2 separate regions of the Homo sapiens genome follow, and region 1 is linked to region 2. Evidence: fine-mapped expression QTL. Tissue or cell type: whole blood. Region 2 holds a variant in brackets; the other region holds the start of a gene. All regions are shown on one strand. Distances are between the middles of the regions.

Region 1 (9,978 bases), 41 kb before region 2:
AGAGTCAGCCCCGGTCCCAGCTCCCAGGTTGCTCTGGCTTTTCCTCCAGGCAGCTTTGGGGATAACAGTGAGGGCTCTCCCATCTTCTAAGACTATCTGTCTCTACACAAGATAAGGCTGATAGAAAAGCTAGTCCAGGACAATGGGGAGGGAGTGGGAGTCCCACCCAGGACTGGGCCGAGGGCTTCTTAGAAGCAGACAGGTGGAGAGCAAGGCGATGCAGAGCAGCTTGGAAGTTTCTTTTCTTTTTCTTTTTTTTTTTTGAGACGGAGTCTTGCTCTTGTCACCCAGGCTGGCATGCAATGGTGCGATCTTGGCTACTGCAACCCCCACTTCCCAGGTTCAAGAAATTCTCCTGCCTCAGCCTCCCTCCCGAGTAGCTGGGATTACAGGCACCCACCACCACGCAGGGCTAATTTTTGTATTTTTAGCGGATACGAGGTTTCACCATGTTGGCCAGGCTGGTCTCGAACTCCTGCCTTGTGATCCACCTGCCTCAGCCTCCCAAAGTGCTGGGTTTACAGGCATGAGCCACCACACCCAGCCGGAAGTTTCTCAAGGAACCTGTCTGTCCATAGGCTGGACAGAGCTATGGTGAAACCAAAGAGCGGACAGCCCAGACAACCTCAGAAACAACCCAGGTTTCCAGCAGATGGGGCAGTCCATGGCCAAGAAGCACTGCATGATGGGTTGGCTAATTCCCCAGTACCCCAGGGATGACTGAGGGGCCAGAGGAGAGGCCAGCCGAGAACCATGTGGACCACCAAACTATTCCTGGAACATGGGGGCATAAAACTCTTTTACCTCATAAATCATTTTTATTTATTAATATTATTATTATTCTTTTGAGATGGAGTCTCGCTTTGTCGCCCAGGCTAGAGTGCAGAGGCTCGATCTCGGTTCACTGCAAAGCCCGCCTCCTGGGTTCAAGCGATTCTCCTGCTTCAGTCTCCCAAGTAGCTGGGAATACAGGCATGTGCCACCACACCCAGCTAATTTTTGTATTTTTAGTAGAGATGGAGTTTCACCATGTTGGCCAGACTGGTCTTGAACTCCCGACCTCAAGTGACCTGCTGCCTTGGCTTCCCAAAGTGCTGGGATTACAGGCGTGAGCCACCACGCCCTGCCAATATTTATTTATTAATTGCTAGCAGATTCCCTCTGCCAATCCCAACACCTCATTCCACATCCATGTGGCATCAAAGCCCCAGTCAGTGGGCAGGGGGAGTCACATTTCCTTTAAAAAATTCCAGTCAATCCTTTTCAGCCACCCTCAAGTTTCCCTTCTAAGAACTGAACTATTTTTCTTTAGTTCTCAAACTTTAGAGATGATTTCTTAAATTATTCATTAACTCATTCAATAAAAATTTTCCTGAGAACCTCCCTCTGCATCCAGAATTGTGTCAGAAATTGAGGAAGACGCAAAGATCTAAATCCACCACAAAGTTTGGTACTACATGTATGTACTTTAACTTGAACAAATTAAAAAAATCCAAACAGGACACCTGAGGTTCCAGTCTTCAGTGGAAAAAATATGACTAGTAATTCAATACCAGTGTACTTACAAACACCTTTATGTATGATTTGGGGCAGAGGGCAGGCTTAGAGACATTTAGCAGGCATGGGACTAGATGCAGTGGTCAGCAGGCCAGGTTTGGGTTGAAAGACAACAGGCCATAGAAAAAGCCATTAGAATGTTGATGCAGCAACTTCCAGCAGTAGCTGTTCACCTGGGAACAAGCAGCTCTGAACTTCAAGTCAAGCATTCCAGTAGCCCAAAACAAAGATCTAAGCATTAATCTGGCCTCCCTGCAAAGACTGACAACATATAAGTAGGTGAAAGGGCACATAACTCCTTTGAAACTGCTAAGACAGCTAAATAAATAGTCTAAATATTAAAAAACAAAAGGCTGACATTGGCAGCAAGATAAGGTCAGACCCCCTGGCACAGCTGGCCTTTGGGAGCTCATCAATGCCACCATCACTCAGCCCAATGTGGGATGGAGGCAGCAAAGCAGGAACAAGTGACTAGAGTAAGCCGGGGAACCCTCAGGGGTCAATGTAAAACTCCAAGAGATGCCATGTGCTTCTTCTTGCTTCACTACTTCCCTCTTCTTTAGGCAGCCCCAAGTAGAATTTGTAGGGATTCCTGTGTCATGTTCCCCTCTGTGGCCTCTGCCTGCAACCTCAGGGACAGCCTCTGCTTTCATAGTACTCACTGGCTTCCGGGAAGGTAACACACCCACCTGTGAGGCTAGGACCCAGGATTTGTGGCAACTGAAGGTTCCAATTTCCTGTGGATTCATGGGCCAGAAAGCACAGTTGGCTACCTCCAAGGAGTGCCTCTTTTGTCAAGCCATGATGCCTCTGGACACTGAAGCTATGTCACTAGCTAAGAAATCCCAGTGGGGCTCCGGTCACACTCCCACTACATATATGTGGAGAAAGCAGGTCCAAATGCTGGGGACATCAAATTTCCAAAAAGAAAAAACACACACATGCACACACACTTGGATCTCCCAGGGTAGCTCTCAGACTCCATTGAAGGGTGATGACGCCAAGAAGCAACACAGTTGGGATCTCCAGAGCCCCTGTAAGCCCCTCTGAGGCTCCAGGAGGGGAGGCTCAGCACCAACATCCAGCAGGGCTTGAAGCTGTGCCAGGGCCTGTGGCACTCTCCCTCTCTATGAACTCTCCCCTCTCTGTGAACTCCGCCGTCCTGCTGGGTGGTTTCTTGCTGCTGCACTGGGGCCTTCAGCTCACTATTATGCTGAGCTGAACACCCTAGGCTCACGGAGAGGCCTCCTCTTCTGGGAAGCCTTCTCTAACCTGCGAATTGGTCATCTGCACATTTAGTGAGCCTATCTATCAATGAGGGCTATTCACTGGCTACTTACTCAATGCTGCTGAAACTTCAGGGAGCTAGAGTGCCAGTGTCTAAAAAAGACACAAAACACATACATCATTAACATCATGTTCCTACATCCAGCTCCAACAACTGCTCCAACAGGTTCGGAGGGGACAGACAAAACCACCCAGAGGGAAAATCCAAGGGGATGAGAAATGAGAAAGGCTCCCCTACACCCTATGACCTAAGGCTGTATGCTTTAACTAAATCTGGCCGACAGCCTTGCCTCATAATACCTGAGAAAATATTCCAGGTCAACAAGTCACCCTGAACCCATCTTCAGATGAATGGATCTTAAAGAGTGACAACTGACGGCCTGGCGTGGTGGCTCACGGTTGTAATCCCAGCTTTGGAGGCAGAAGCAGGCAGATCACGAGGTCAAGAGATCGAGACCATCCTGGCCAACACGGTGAAACCCCGTCTCTACTAAAAACACAAAAATTAGCTGGGCGTCGTGGCTCACAGCTACTCGGAGACTGAGGCAGGAGAATCACTTGAGCCCGGAAGGCGAAGATTGCAGTGAGCCAAGAACGCACGACTGCGAAGGTTGCAGTGAGCCAAGAACACACGACTGCGCTCCAGCCTGGTGACAGAGGGAGACTCTGTCTCAAAAAAAAAAAAGACTGACAACTGACCATGGGAAAAGGCAAACAATTACTTACAGGGCATGACCAGATTGTCGTTTTTGGGTTGTGGACGGTAGGGGAAGGAGTAACTAGAGGAAAAAGGGAAGAGGCAGTTGTATACACATGCTTTATTTAACTTTTAAAAGTTCAGGAAAGAGAAGTATTTCTTCTCTTCTAAAAAGAAATCAAGAGACTAGAGGAAAAACGGGATAGCCCCTGGCCCAAGTCCTGGCTCTGCTACTTACCACCCCCAACCCCAACTAGAGTAAGTCCTGGACACACAGGGCCATAGAGCATCGCCCAGGGACCGCCAGGACCTTCCTGGTACCCTCTTCAAAGTGGCCATCAGGACGGGAGGCCAGACTGACCACCTGTGCAGGGAGGAGCACACTGTGGCTGGAGGTCACCTCGTGAAGCGTTCCCAAGCCACCTGGCTGGAGGGTCTCCATCGCTAGGGTGTTGACCGTTGGGGGAGGGGGAGTGACAGCGTCCAGTGCGCATCTGGGAGAGAGGAGCTCGGGTTCAAGGACCGCGACAGGTCCTCCGAGCCCTGGTCTCAGCCCCAGCAGGGGCCGGCACCCACCTCGGTCACAATGGTGGACAGGTAGACGTCCTGACTGAACTCCCAGCCATCCAGACAGCTCTCCTGCTCCAGCTGCCCCAGGTCCACGTCGCGCCCCGGCTCCAGCCCAAGCGCCGAGAAGTTGGCGATGGTGGCGAGCCGGTAGCGGCGGCAGCTGTGGGGCACCTCGCGGCCGTCCCGCAGCCGCAGTGGGACAGTGTGGTTGCGCCAGGCGCTGCTCAGGTTCGCGGCGTCCGGCACCCGGCAGCGGTGCTCCGGGGTCGCTATCAGGAACACGGAGGACAGGCCGGTGAAGCCATTGGGGATGATGCTGGCGCTGAGCAGGAAGAAGATGAGGCGCTGGAAGGGCCCCCACTCGCCCAGGAAGGCGGTCACCTCGTCGTAGTCCCGCATGCCGCCCTCAGAGGCCCACAGAGCGCGGCCTGGGGTCGGGGAACGCGGCGGGCTTTGCGCGTGCGCGCGGGGCACCCGCCGCCGACCAGGCAAGCCAGGCAGCAGGCGACCCAAGACCGTCCGCGGAGGGTAGGCTCGCGAGCTGACACCGCCGCCTTGGTCCTGCCGCGGCTGGCCTTACATAGGGCGCACGACCAGGGAAGGTTGCGGGCCTGGGCCGCAAGGCGCGCCCCGCTGGCAGGCAGAGCGGCGCCGGCGAAGGCGGAGCTGGGGCGGGACGCGAGGGCGCGGGGCGGGCCGGGAGTGCACCTGAGGCCCGGGCGGGGCCTGTCCTGGGGACCTGGCGAGGCCCGGCCTCTGCCAGCCAAGCCTGCTGGGGACGACCGAGGTAGCCCGGGCTCGGCTTAGGAAGGCAGCGGGACTCGAGGCCTTGGGGTCCGAGTCCGAACTCGCTCCTCTAGCGCCGGGCGGGGAGCGAGTGGGAGAGCGGCCGCGAAGCTCCAGTGTTGAAAACGCACCCCTCCCAGCTTTTTGCAAGGCCTACTTGGGGGCGGAGGTAAGGAGAAAGTCACTGGCCCAGGGTCTCACAGATAGTTGCTCTTGACACCGCCTAATCTTATAAGAGGGACGGGGATTATTTTGAACCTGGGACTGTTAACTACCCTAGTAGAGAGGCTGGGAGCTATGACTTTTCATTCTAGTCCAGATGCCCTTTCCACATTTTCGTCTGTAACAAGCCATTTTGTTCATGCAGATGTAAAAATTTAACTTCACGATTAACGATCCTAGCCTAGGGTTAAATATTCCCCACAGATTAGTTATTTCCGTGCAGAGTTTATTCAGAAGCTAACTGGAAAAAAAAAAAAAGCAGCGAGGTGATTCTAAAGCAGCAATGTTCCATAGGATAAGGAGCTACATTTGTTATGTTAACTTTTCTAGTAGCCATATTAATAAAATTGCCAGATTTAGCAAATAAAAATATAGGACTCCTAGTTAAATTTGAATTTCAGATATAGAATGAATAATTTTTAAATATTATGTCCCAAGCAGGAATATATAAAATAAAAATGTAACTGGTTGTCCTGTATTTTATTGGGCAATGCTGCATATTTAAAAAGTAAAAATAAAAGATGAAATTAACTTTAATGGTATATTTAATCAAGTATATCCAGAACATGATCATTTCATCATATAATCAATATAGAAATTATTGATATTTTACATTGTTATATGTAAATCATTGATCTTTTTTTCCCCTCCTCATACTAAATCTTAAGAATTCAGTGTGTTTCACAGGTTCTCAGGATTTGAAAAAAAAAAAAAAAGGAATCCAGTGTGTATTTTACAGCACATTTCAATTTGGACTAGCCACACTTTTTATTTTTTAATATTTATTTATTCATTTATTTATTGGAGACACGGTCCCACTGTGTCACCCAGGCTAGAGTGCAGTGGCACAATCATAGCTCACCGCAGCCCTGAACTCCTAAGCTTAAGTGGGCCTCCTGCCTCAGCCTGCTGAGTAGCTAGGACTACAGGCACATGCCACCGTGCCCAGCTAATTTTTTTATTTTTTTTATTTTACAGAGACAAGGCATCCCTGTGTTGCCCAGGCTGGTCTCAGACTCCTGGGTTTAAGCAATCCTCCCACCTCAGCCTCCCAAAATGCTGAATTACAGACGTGAGCCACTATGCCTGGCCAGACTCATTTTTTAAGTGCTCAGTAGCCACATGTAGCTATTGGTTATCTTATTGGACAGCACCATTCCTAAGGCCTTTAAGAATTTGGGCTGCTAAACTTAACAATGCAAGATATTCCTTTTTAAAATAGTAGTGGCTTAGTGATAGAAACAGAACTAAGTGTATATTTTTACAATATAATGTGTTGAGTAAAGAATATTTAATAGTCACTATATTATGAGTTGAAAATAAAGCTACAGAAAGGGAACCTAACCTGGCCAGCAGATTTTTAACAAGGAAATCTAAACATTTGCATAAAGCATAATAGACTTAAAAAAATTATGATAAAGATGTTATCACAGGACTTGTTTGTTTCTTTATACTTACTATTCACTATTCTTACTTCCTGAAGATGGATGGTTATACCTTCAGCAATGTACTTAAATCCTTCTAACATCTTATGTGAAGTTATAGTTCTTATCTAGAACTAACTGAAAAAGAAAGCAAAGCTTCTTGAAAATAAACTCCTTTTTTGTGTGCTAAAATATTATTTTAATGCTTCAAAAGAAATGAAAGCTTTTATGAGAAGAATGTTGACCTCTGTCCAGACCAAACAAGATGAAGAAGTCTTATTTTAACATTTGAGAAATATCAGTTGGGCATCAGATAACATTCCTGAAAGGGACTGAAAACAATGCAGTATACTACAAAAGAAGCTGCATATCCTTAGGAAGAAAAGAAACTATTTGTCATAGATGGCTTGTCCACATGCGCAAAGCAGAGAGCAACCTAAGATGGTGCCGTCCAGTTCCAGGTGCACTGTGATTACTATCTGAATGCCATTACTATTTAAATTGCATTTTTTTTTTGAGACAGGGTCTCCTTCTGTCACCCAGGCTGGAGTGCAGTGAGGTGGTCTTGGCTCACTGCAGCCTCAACCTCCTGGGCTCAAGCAATCCTCCCACCTGAGCCTTCCAAGTGCCTGGGACTACAGCCACGCGCCGCTACACCCAGCTATTTTTTTTGTATTTTTGGTAGAGACAGGGTTTTGCCATTTTGGCCAAGCTGGTCTCAAATTCCTGACCTCAAGTGATCCCCCCGTCTTGGCCTCCCAAAGTACTGGGATTATAGGTAGGAGCCACCATACCCAGCCTTAAATTTCATCTTTTAAAAGAGAAAGAGAGCTTAGAATCTTAATCAGTTACCTGAGGCCCTTTATCCTGCAATATTCTGAATTGGGATGTTCCTATTTTACATATTAAAAAATGTAAAACTGATTTATATGGTAGATAACCCTACAGTTCAGGGCTAGAACTTTAGATTAAATGCATTCATACCCTGGCAGATGTGGTAGCTTGCCTCCAAGATGGCACCCAATGAATGATCCCTGTACCAGGATTGGTCTATGTGACCAAAAGCATACAGCATTAGTGATGATACTTATATCACTTGGGTAATTACATTATAAAAGATGTCCATCATGGGTGTTCTTTTCCCTTTCTCTTGCTCAGAGACAAGCAAGCTGTCATGTTATAAGCAGCCCTTTGAGGGGTCCATGTGATGTCAAGGAATGAAGTCTCTAGCCAACATTTAATGAGGAACTGAGGCCCACCAACAACCTTGAGTGAGCTTGGAAGTAGCTCCTTCAGCATCAGTTGGGTGTCGAGATGACTACTGACAGCTTGACTGCAACTTCATGAGAGTCTTCTGGACCAGAACCACTCAGTTAAGTGGCTCCCAGATTCCTGATCCTCAGAAACTCTGAGAAATAATGAATGTTGGTTGTTTTAAAATGGTAAATTTTGAGGTATTATGTTATGTGGCAATAGATAGCTAATATATAAATTATTTGAATCAAACAATACGTTAAATTAAAGCTCAGAAGAATAAACATCTGTAATTCCTTAATTTGTTTTCCCTTCTATTCTACAGAATAGAATTTTACAGATGAACCTTGTAGTTACTTGTGCAATAAGAGACAGTATGTTGTATTGATTAAGTGCAGAGCCTCTGGATGTATGATAGAAGAAAGACCAATATTCAATTGCTTTCTTCTTCAATTCCAAGCTTGTGAGCTTGAGCAAATTTTAAAAGTGTTTTAAGCCTCAGTTTCCTGGGATGGTAGTGCTTAGCTCGAGCTCCTAGCATATATTAACTACAAACTAAATATTAGCTATAATTATTAGTTTTACTTTGATTATTGACTCTAAATAAATACCTTAAGAACTTTGTGTTCTCCACAGATTTGGATATGTCTGGACGTTATGTAGGCTGGAGTAGTCAGCAATTACTTGCCTGAGGAAGGGAAGGCCTCCTCCTTTAAGAAAAGAATAGGCTGGGTGCGGTGGCTCATACTTGTAATCCCAGCATTTTGGGAGGCTGAGGAGGGTGGATCACCTGAGGTCAGGAGTTTGAGACCAGCCTAAGGAACATGGTGAAACCCTGTCTCTACTAAAAATACAAAAATTAGCCAATTGTGGCACGCGCCTGTAGTCCCGGCTACTCAGGAGGCTGAGGTGAGAGGATTGCCTGAGCCTGGGAGGTGGAGGTTGCAGTGAGCCGAGATCGCGCCACTGCACTCCAGCCTGGGCAACAGAGTAAGACTCCGTCTCAAAAAAAAAAAAAAGAAAGAAAGAAAAGAGTAGAAGGCCCAAGCTTAGTCCAATATTATAGCTTCAGCATCAGAGTAGAGAATGATTCAGAGCATCTGTCCAGTGTCTGCTGTAGATCCCTCAAATCCGTGTTTGGACGCTTCTGGTAAGGGGTGTATGGCAGATGCACCCGACAGATGCACTTGGCAGCAATAACTTATGCATACCTGAAGAATGACCCTATGGTCTAAGAAGAATGTGTGTTCAGAGCTCCAAGCTAAGGAATCTGGGAGTGGCCAACCCAGATATTTCATTTCTTATCTATGACGAACTTCTGAACTGCTCCCACCCCCAGCCCATCCTGTAGAATGCAGGCCCTACGAGGCGATCAAAGCCCTTTGTTTTAGGTTAAATGAAGGTTGCCTGGTGGAGGTTGCTAGGGGAAAGGTGTTAAGTAAAAATGTTATATAAACTGCATGGTGTTTTTTGTTTGTTTTTGTTTTTTTGAGACAGAGTTTTTGCTCTTGTTGCCCAGGCTGGAGTGCAATGGTGCAATCTCGGCTCACTGCAACCTCCGCCTCCTGGGTTCAAGTGATTCTGCTGTCTCAGCCTCCCAAGTAGCTGGGATTACAGGTGCCCACCACCAGGCCCGGCTAATTTTTTGTATTTAGTAGAGTCAGGGTTTCCCCATGTTGGTCAGCCTGGTCTCAAACTCCTGACTTCAGGTGATCCACCTGCCTCAGCCTCCCAAAGCGCTGGGATTACAGGTATGAGCCACCACGCCTGGCCAATTGCATGCTTTTTACAAGGAGTTTTGGTTCTCCTGCCCAGCCCACTGCCACTGGACTGCCCTGTATTGTAAGTCCCCTCAATAAACCTTATGTCTCAGTTTCTGGTTCTAGGTCTCTTCTTCAGCCTCTTGAACATGGTGCCATCCCTACTGAAGTCAATGGGGTCTGACATGACTAGGGGAACTTGAACAAAATCTGAAATAGCTGTTTTTTTCTTGCCAAAATCACTGTAAGACATTATTTGCCTCAGCCCCAGAACATTGAATTATATGACCCAAGAGTGGAGAAACAGAGAAGTCTGTCTGTGTCATCAGACAATATCCCAAGTGGGATGTCATCACCCCAATGCATATTGGCATTTGGGCAGAGTAGAGCAGCGTCAGCCTAGCAAGACTTGGCACAATTC
Region 2 (9,978 bases):
GGTGACAGAGCGAAACTCTATCTCAAAAAAATAAAAACATAAATAAAAAAAAGAAGCTTCTCTGTGGAAAAATAACTATGTAACTGAGTACCCCCATTTTTCTAAGAGATAGTTTATTTTCTCTCTCTCTTCTTTTCTCTTTCCTCCTTTTCTGCACTTTCTACTTAGCTCTTTAGAAGTGCAATTATAGCCTTTTAACCTCCTCTTCACTGGACACTCCCTGCAGGGCAAATTCATCTAACTATGTGCTTAGAAGCTCCAGAGTGGAACTCTCACCGCCCAGATTTCCTCAAGCGATATCAGTCAATTTCCAACTCAAAGTATGCCTGCTAGAGTTTTTGGCCACCTATACAACCTGTTTCTGCCCATGAAGGCACCACCTCAACTGCCCAGTAGATAAGGCAGCAAGCTAGCCCTCTGATCCCTCACCTGCTCGCGTCCTCCCCTGCCTTTTAGAAGTGCCTGCTTTCCGCTTCAAAAAGAGGAGCGGTGGTACCCTTCAGGCAGGAAGCCGATACCTTTCTCCCTAAGCTAGCTTTGGAATAAAAAGTCACTTTCCTTACATCAGACTTTGCTCTTGTTAATTGGACGCTGCAAGCTGTGAGTGACTGAACCTGAGTTTTTGTTACAACTGCACTATGCAGACACCCCTGTGTAGAAATTTGCTTATTATTAACATGACTGAGAAGCAGAGGATATCTGAAAAATGACTTCAGGAACACTAGTGGATCTTTTTACACATACTAGACCCAAATTAGATAATACAAGGACTAATTCATAAACACAACAAATAAGTATGCTCAAGGGATCTTAGTGATTTTCCCATTTAGTAATAGGAGTAGTTTAGATAGAACTAGTGACTAATTTTTTATTAGCTTAGTAGCACCACTACCCAAGAACATTTGCATCAGGGATATAGGCTGAAATGTAAGAACTAAGAAGCCCATGTACCTAGGACACACTTGCTTAATTCAGACGCATAAGCTCTGTCATTGATCTCTTCTAATTGCCAAGTAGGATGGCCCTTAAAAATAAACTTAGATTAGCTGCAGCCTAAATCTACCAGTTCTGACGATCATCGTGTGTGTGTGTGTGTGTGTGTGTGTGTGTGTGTGTGCTGCCATCATAGAGTAGGAATTTTCTTTTTTCCTTTTTTCTTGGCAGATAAATTATTAAATCTAATCTATAAAGCCAATTCAGTATTTCTGCGCCTGAAAGCCACTTGTTAGTTTGCTATTGGCACGTGTAAAAAGCTGATCAAGGCTCCAATCCAGGCAATGGGGATCTAGGTTATTCTAGCCTCAGTGTTCAATTGCCAGGTCAGCTTCAGGAAGCAGGAGCTGAATTAGCATCTCTGCCTCAGGCAACACGGACATCATTAGTCTTAATCTCATAATTTTTGGTGGGGAGGGAACCATTACCCAGGGACATCAATGATCTCAATCCCATAACTTTAGGAGGGGGAAGGGAATGCTTTCCCTTTGGGTCCCAGTACTGCAGACTTAAATACTGTACCCTGTGACTTTTTTTTTTTTAGATGGAGTCTTGCTCTGCTGCCCAGGCTGGAGTACAGTAGTGCGATCAAGGCTCACTGGAACCTCCACCTCCTGGGTTCAAGTGATTCTCCTGCCTCAGCCTCCCAAGTAGCTGGGATTACAGGTATGTGCCACCATGCCCAGGTAATTTTTGTATTTTTAGTAGAGACGGGGTTTCACCATGTTGGCTAGATTCGTCTCGAACTCCTGACCTCAGGTGATCTGCCCACCTTGGCCTCCCAAAGTGCTGGAATTACAGGCGTAAGCCATTGCGCCCAGTGACATTTTTCAATATCTAGTCCCATGAACTGAATAGAGGCATTTCAAAATAATTTAGAATTTTATAATCTTAATTTTTCCTCAGGAAAACCCAGTCGTTGTCATAATGTTCCTCTGAGTTAAGAAAATCAGTTGCATACTTATGTGCTGGATATCTGCATTTCCAGGTCACTTATTACTTACCATAGCAGCAAAGACATAATGGTCATTATGGCAATATTCCGAGTCCTGAACAGGTCCAGAATGAAAGCTTTCTGCTGCTTCAGGGGATTTAGCTCCTGTAACCAAAATAATGCAAATAACCATGAGATTAAGAGGTAGTAAGGAAGTATCTTTGGCTATGATGCATGGGGAAAACTTATGCATGCAACTCTCACTTCACCTTGACTATGCTTAGAAGTCTGGTGATTGGAGGCAATAGGGCATCTACATATATGACACTTACTCTGACACTTTAAAATGTTTGTAGTCCATTTTACACAGAAGCCTTTTAAATATATAACACCCCCTTCCCTGTCTCGTTAGACAAAGCCTGTTGGCTAACATAGCCTTTCTCTGACTGACAGTCAGAGAATGGATGTCATTTACCACACTGATCTGTGATCCTCAGGACTGCCTATTGAAGGGTAGGGCCATGTAGTCCCTTCCTTGAGGCCACGTCTGCTTTTTACACTTCTCTGTTTATTTGTTTGTTTTTTTTAGATGGAGTCTAGCTCTGTGGCCCAGGCTGGAGTGCAGTGGTGTGATCTCAGCTCACTGCAACCTCCACCTCCCAGGTTCAAGCGATTCTCCTGCCTCTCAGCCTCCTGAGTAGCTGGGATTACAGGCGAGCACCACCGCATCTGGCTAATTTTTGCATTTTTTGTAGAGACTGGGTTTCACCATGTTGGCCAGGTTGGTCTCAAACTCCTGGCCTCAAGCAGTCTGCCCACTTTGGCCTCCCAAAGTGCTGGGATTACCCAGCCTTGCTTTTTACACTTCTCTTGTTGTAGTCATTTAGCATCAGAACAGACTTCAGTTTACTGGCGGGCCTTGGGCAAGTAACGATCCTCTCTGAACTTCAGCTTACTGCTATATAAAATGGGTATATTAATTGGGAGTTGAGAGATTAAATGAGATCATATATATATAGCTTAGCACAGTGCTTGAACCATGGTAAATGTCCAGTAAATTTAAACTATTATTATTATTACTGTATCATTGAGGAAAAGAGGCTAGCCATCAGCGGTCAGTGACAAATCCTTACTGCTATCAATGGGTTTATACTCTTTTACTTTTATTTATATTTATTTTCTTGTTTGTTTTTTGAGAGGGAGTTTCACTCTTGTTGCCCAGGCTGGAGTACAGTGGCGCGATCTCAGCTCACTGCAACCTCCGCCTCCCAGGTTCAAGCAATTCCCCTGCCTCAGCCTCCTGAGTAGCTGGGATTACAGGCACCTGCCACCACACCTGGCTAATTTTTGTATTTTTAGTAGAGATGGGGTTTCGCCATATTGGCCAGGCTGGTCTCAAACTCCTGACTTCAGGTGATCCATCCACCTCAGCTTCCCAAAGTGCTGGGATTACAGGTGTGAGCCACTGCGCCCGGCCTATTCTTTTGCTTTTAATTTGCTGATATTAACTTGCTATGAGTTATGAATCAAGGTAACCAAGCTGATTAGAATTGAAACTAACATAAAAGTTATTAGGCTCTGAGGTGGGGAATCTCTCAGGGATGAAGTACCAGGACTTTGTGACTTTGTGGCCCTACAGTGCATGCGCAGTAAGAGACTGATGGAGGAGTTTTTATTATGAAGAAGTGGGAGTGCCAGGCCTGCCTTCACAGCAGGTCCTCTCCAAATGTGAGTGTCCTTTTTTCTAGGAATGATCAGACACTTACACAGCTCACAGCCACATTGCCTTTTCTCTCTTGCACTATTTGGATTGTAGAGCCCCAGAACATGCCCCCAGCAGAATAACCCTGGTATTATAACAAAGCAAAGCCACTGCATAAACTAGTGGGAACCAGACATCTTCTTGGAGGGTTCCAGGGTGGTGCACACAGACAGGACCTGTGGACCAGTCCTGTGCTAATACTTGGTGGTTCCACGGGGCCCTTCTTAAATGCAGGTTGCCAGGTTCCTCCCTGGGCTTGCCTACTTCGACTCTTTTAAACAGAGGCCTGAGAATCTGTATTCTTAAAGCACTTGGGTGATTGTGATGAGCAGCCAGGATTGGAAACCTCAGAACAAGAATATGCTTGTATCCAGTGGTTGTCCCTGGCCTGGGTGGAGCCACCAAAATGTCTTTGGATCAGGTACCAGAAGCAGGTTGAAGGTGCTTCTTCTGAAGCCAAGGATGCTTGAGATTGCTTTCTAAGACAATACTCTACTCTATATCTTTTCCTATCCAAGTTAATGCTACTGCCTGTAACATGAAGTGAAAAATCACAGTTGTTAAGAGCATGTACTTTGGTGCCTGGGAGAACTAGGTCACAAATCCCAGTTTAACATCTGTGTGATCCTGGGCAAGTTACTTAACTTCGCTGTGCCTTAGTTTCTTTTTTTGAAAAAAAAAAAA[AG/G]CATGAGCAATGAGCAGAACACAGTGCCTGGCATTTGGTAGGCTCTTCAATATCATTCTAAATAGGGTGCATTTGCTGGCACAGGGCTCTGCAGATCCTCCTAAAGAGGATCCTACGGGAGGTGAGCAGGGGAGATGACCAGGCCTCAGGAAAGCGCAAGCCCCCTTTCCCTTAATGGGTTTGTCCAGTTCAGGCTAGATGTGCATCATGGCAGGAAGAAAGAAGGCACTGTCAGGCTGAGAATGATGGCTCACATCTGTAATCCTAGCATTATGGGAGGCTGAGGTAGGAGGATTGCTTGAGCCCAGGAGTTTGAGACCAGCCTGGGCAACATAGTGAAACCCTGTCTCTACAAAAAAAAATACAAAATGTTAGCTGGGTTTGGTGGCAAGTGCCTGTAGTCCCAGCTTGGGAGGTTGAGGTGGGAGGATTGCTTGAGCCCAGAAGGTCGAGGTCGAGGCTACATTGAGCTGTAATTGTACCACTGCACTCTAGCCTGAGCAAAACAGTGAGACTCAAAATTTTTTTAAAGTGTGTGTGTGTATATATATATATATATATATATATATACACATACACACATATATATACACATTTATATATGCGTGTGTGTGTGTGTGTGTGTGTGTGTGTGTATATATATATATATAAAGGCACTGCCAGAACCATGTGTTTTAACACTGAACTATATTCTTATTTGTCCATAACTATATATCTCATATCTATTTTATGATTGCTGTCATCCACATAGGTAGATCCCTACAACTAGACTCTAAGTTTCACAGATAGGAATCAGGCCACCTAGCTGATAAATACCGATAAACACCCCAGCACAGCCCTGAAGGGCAGAAGTGTTAGACACTCCCAATGTTGTTGTTGTTGTTGTTGTTGTTGTTTTATCCATTTAAATTGACTGAGACTTGAAATGGACTTCTTGATTTGAAGGGCAAAGGATTAAGGGATGTTTTGTCCTGGCAGCCCTCTGAGAGCTTGAGTTCATGGCCAGTCTAAGCCTCTAGCCATAGCCAGAGTATCTGCTTCTGGAAAAGGTCCTGAAGGCCAGGGACTGGGGAAGCCGTGGGGGTGAGCAGTGGCATGCCCACCGTCCTCTACAGAGTTCTGCTTTCTGTACTACATGCTTTGGTGCAGGGCATGTATAATGTTACTGAAGCCACCACAGTCTTTTTTAGGTGTCCTGAGCAGACTCCTACCTATCTCCTAGACAGGAATGCCCTGCCCCATCCTCTCCACTCATTTAAGTGAGTCCTGCTGTCCTCCCTGGCTTGGACCTGCCTCCAGCCATGGGCCACCCTGCTATCTTTCTCTGTATTGCTGGCACACAGTGTCTCTACTTGGATACTTACCATTTCCTCCCTTATGCCATTCTTTATCTTTTTATCTAATCCTCTTGCCAATCTTAGTTACATTCTATGTTCCTTTAGAATTTGGGCTGTGTCTTTTCTTATTTCCTCTAGGAGCCAGCACAGGGCATGGCACACTGCATATCCTCACGAACTGTCAGGAGGTGTGGCTGCTTCCACAGAATATCAGCTTTTCCTTGTGGCCACCAGCTTTCAAGGGTGAATCCTCAAGCCTGTGCTTTCAGGCCTTAAGGTTCTAGACATGACACAGAGTGAGACTAAAGACATGCATAGCTTCCTCAGCAGTCTGTGGTAAGATTCAGGGTACAGTGGAGAACCCAGGGTGGACTAGCCCTGAAACATATTTTTCCACTTAATCTGGACATTTAAAAATCATCAGTACATAGCTGTGTCAGTGGTTTGGAGCAATGCCAATAGAAAGTTGATGATAAACTTGCAAAATAAAGCAAACTAATATTTAATGAACGCTTGCTATTTGCTAAGCAGTTTACATATATTATTGCATTTAATTCTTATAAACAGCCCTTTAAGGTGGATTTTATCTTAGAATTTAATCATGATTGTGTTCCTAAGGCCTAGTGCAATGCCTGGTACATAGTGGGCACTTAACAAATATTGAATTAAGTTAAATTCCATAAAATCAAGAATGCATAGCTGATCTCAAGAGGAAACATCTGCAAATGCTTACCTCCACAGAATCAAATATCACTGCTGGTACAGCTATGTTGTTCATTTTTGCAGCTTTTTGGATGATATCTTCAGCCTCTCTAAATCTTCTCTGGGATATCAGCCATCGGGGAGATTCAGGAATGAACCTATAATTTATTTTTAATATTTAATAATTTTTCACAACAGCAGGGCTGGATACTATTAAATCTGAGTTTCCCCCAAATAGTTTTAATTTTGTAAAATTCTAGTTTGTCTTTTTAAAGGGAGTCCACATAAGATTTCTATTGGAGCATAGGAATAAATAAAACCACCTTCAAGTTTCAAACTTCTGATCAAATTATAAGACCGATCATCAGTTGTGCTTGAGACCAGGACCAGACCATAAGGGGTGACATTAACTATGGGCATGTTTGAGCCAGGGCTCTGGAGAAGTTCATCCAAAACTTATAGGTAGTGTGGCTCATAAAAGAAACATAGCTACTAGACTATAAGTTCCCCTAGAGAAGAGACTGTCTTTGCAGTGGGTCCATCCTAAGGAGAATTGCTGGTGTCCCAGCTGGTGATGTTCACAGTTTATTGGGAAAAGGATGGCCAGGGCACCTGTGTTCTTGATCGTTTCCTTTAGTCAAAAGAGAAAGTGAGGGCACTGACACCCGCCTGTGTGGGGCCCCCATGGCTTTCAACAGATTCCCAGATCAGCGAGTGCCCAAACCAGCTTTTGGGAGATGAGCCCCAATGTTGTCTTTTTGTTAATGTCTAAAAAAGCTTATTGTTTTAAATTACATAGTCTATTCCCATTTATAGCTGATGCTCAAACACAGTTGCAAATAATAGGGCTTCTATTCTTTCTAAATTTTTATTTCTCAAAATCTTTTAGCCATTCTCCTGTCAGCTCTCATTTTCCTTACCTATTGTCAGTACAGATGGTCCCTAACTTATGATGGTTCGACTTATGATTTTTCTACTATAGGAGAAAAATGATATGCATTGAGTAGAAACCTTACTTTGAGTGCTCATACATACAGCCATTCTGTTGTTCACTTTCAGTACAGTATTTAATAAATTACATGAAATATTCAACACTTAATTATAAAATAGGTTTTGTGTTAGAAAATTTTGCCCAATTGTAGGCTAATGTAAGTGTTCTGAGCATGTTTAAGGTAGGTCAGGCTGAGCTATGATATTTGGTAGGGATGCAGGGCAGGCAAGCTCCAGAGTGGGGTTTGGCCCATGAGGGTTCTTGGCTTTGCCCAGGAAAGAATTCAAGGGCAAACTGGAGGTGGAAGAAAACAGCTTTATTGAAGAGGCAATGTTACAGCTCCGTGACTGCTCCTGCAGAGCAGGGCTGCCCCACAGGCAGAGAGTAGCAGCTCAGGACAGTTTTGCACTCATATTTATAACTACTTTTAATTACATGTAGATGAAAGGTCAGTTTATGCAGAAATTTCTAGGGAAAGGGTAGTAATTTTTGGGTCATTGGGTCATTGCCATGGAAAGGGGCAATAAAGCCTGAGTGTTGTCATGGCAACAGTAAACTGACATGGCACACGGGTGGGCGTGTCTTATGGAAAGCGTCTTCTGCCCTGGCTGTGTTTTAGCTGGTCCTCAATTTGGTCCAGTGTCCAAGCCCTGCCTCTGGAGTCGTGTCTGGCCTCCTACCTCAGTAGGTTAGGTGTATTGACCTAGAATATTCTCAATTTACAATGGGCTTATTGGGATGTAACCCCATTATAAGTCAAAGAGCATCTGTACTTACTTAGCCTAGACAACAAATTATAAGTAGCAGACACAGAGTCCTGTGTAGTTAATTGGCCCCAAACCCACACTAGGAATTAGCTCAGAGCAAAACAAATGACCAACCAGCAGGTCCCCTCTCCAGCTTAATAGCACATGAGTTGAAAAATGAGCCTAGTTTGCATTTTTCAGAATATGCCTTTAGTGGGTCCCTATAGGAACTACAATAATGTTAGGTCACTGACTCTCAGTAATTAGAACTGTGCTGTCCGATAGAAACTTCTGAAATGTTCTGTATCTGTACTAAGACAGCACCCACTAACCACATGTAGCTATTGAGCTAGTGTGATTGAAGAAATGAAAATTCAATTTTATTTACTTTTAATTAATTTTAACTTAAATAGCTGCATGTGGCTGGTGGCTACTATATTAGTGCAGAATTAGAGATCTTACTACACAGCCACGATATACCTCATGGATGGGGCCAGTATCTTTCTCCAACCAGATTATGCTTAGAAATATCCTACCTTTTTTTCTACAGACCACTGGCCTCAGATTCTTAATGTTTAATCAGCTAGAAATTGCATAGCTTTCCTCACATTGCATCTATGGCCTGCTTCCCTACCCCATCCCCACCGCCTATACACATACTCCATTCACACCTGTGGCCACTTACTGCCAAGCCTTTTAAAGGAAACTTGGGACATAAAAAGTCCCCCAAACCACCAGCAGTGCCTCTATGTAGGTTTACCTCCCATTTCTAGCCCACTGTACTCAGGGCCACTGGTATCTCTAGTTTTGAATTGCTTTGATTTTTTTTTGGTGCACATAATCTCAAATCTAGCTGATCATTTCAAAAGTCAATGGAGTGCCAAATGAGGTAGCACACTATAATCTCTCTGTAGATTGAATTCAGACTAAACAGCAGTGAGGTGTTGCTGGAGAGCTTGTCTCATACTGAGCAGGCGGCAGGGTCCATGTCAGCTCTAAGCATCCCTCCATACCCCAACCACTAGACTGATGAGCATCCCTTTGGGAAGACCCACCTGCAAGGATGGGATGTTCAGAAGAAAGCTATTTTCTTTTATAGGAAAATGGTAAGACCACTGGTAAATGTTCAGGGGGAGCACTCAGCTTGTCAGTGCTGGTCCCAGGCTGGCCTCTGTCTGGGGCAAGTCCTGTCCCTGGTACAGTATGCCCACAGCCAGGAGCATTCATGGACCAGCTCCTGGGGAATAGAAGAAAAAGCTCTCCTTAGGGCACAGTGAGCAGGCTCCCTGTGGGATGGACCTTCTCTGCTGGAAACTCTGGAGGCTGACTCTGGAGGGCTAATGGATCAGAGCTGTTCGTTCCTCGCTGTGACATATGGTCCCGAGGCAAAGATCCCATCCCTACTAATCTCTGTACAGCCCATCAGAGGCTTTATATTGTTATTCTCTCTCTCTCTTTCTCTCTGATAGAATCATACCTTAATCAGATTGATTATAACTTTTTTTTTGAGACAGCATCTCATTCTATCTGGGCTGGAGTGCAGTGGCATGATCATATAGCGCACTGTAATCTTGAACTCCCAGGCTCAAGGGACCCTCCCACCTCTGCCTCCTAAGTAGCTGGGACTACAGGCGCTCACCACTGCACCCAGCTAATTTTTTATTTTTAGTACAGACAGGGTTTTGCCATGTTGCCCAGGCTGGTTTTGAACTGCTGGGCTAAAGTGATCCTCCCACCTTGGCCTCCCAAAGTGCTGGGATTACAGGTGTGAATCACCATACCTGGCTAATTATAACATTTTGAAAGTACTGGTCTCTTAGGTCAAAAT

The links. PIP is the estimated chance that this variant, and not a neighbour inherited with it, causes the effect.
Region 1: it holds the start of MIR3936HG, and the variant in region 2 is fine-mapped to the expression of MIR3936HG in whole blood (INTERVAL, PIP 0.95).

Annotation. Positions count from the first base shown.
Region 1 is chr5:132,364,505-132,374,482 of GRCh38, reverse strand. MIR3936HG (MIR3936 host gene) reads left to right here and starts at 4,567. Exons shown (of 8, transcript NR_110997.1): 1 at 4,567-4,639; 2 at 7,702-7,915; 3 at 9,456-9,548. SLC22A5 (solute carrier family 22 member 5) reads right to left here and starts at 4,773. Exons shown (of 10, transcript NM_003060.4): 1 at 4,118-4,773. The coding sequence starts at 4,510. It overlaps MIR3936 (microRNA 3936), which reads left to right and starts at 8,884; the gene lies at 8,884-8,993. RefSeq lists a silencer at 4,571-4,890.
Region 2 is chr5:132,323,870-132,333,847 of GRCh38, reverse strand. It overlaps SLC22A4 (solute carrier family 22 member 4), which reads right to left. Exons shown (of 10, transcript NM_003059.3): 5 at 6,445-6,571; 6 at 1,998-2,092. MIR3936HG (MIR3936 host gene) reads left to right here. Exons shown (of 8, transcript NR_110997.1): 7 at 1,538-1,659. Among named protein-coding and RNA genes, the nearest start is that of SLC22A4, 34 kb to the right of the region's middle. The variant AG/G (reference allele first, on the strand shown) is at 4,374.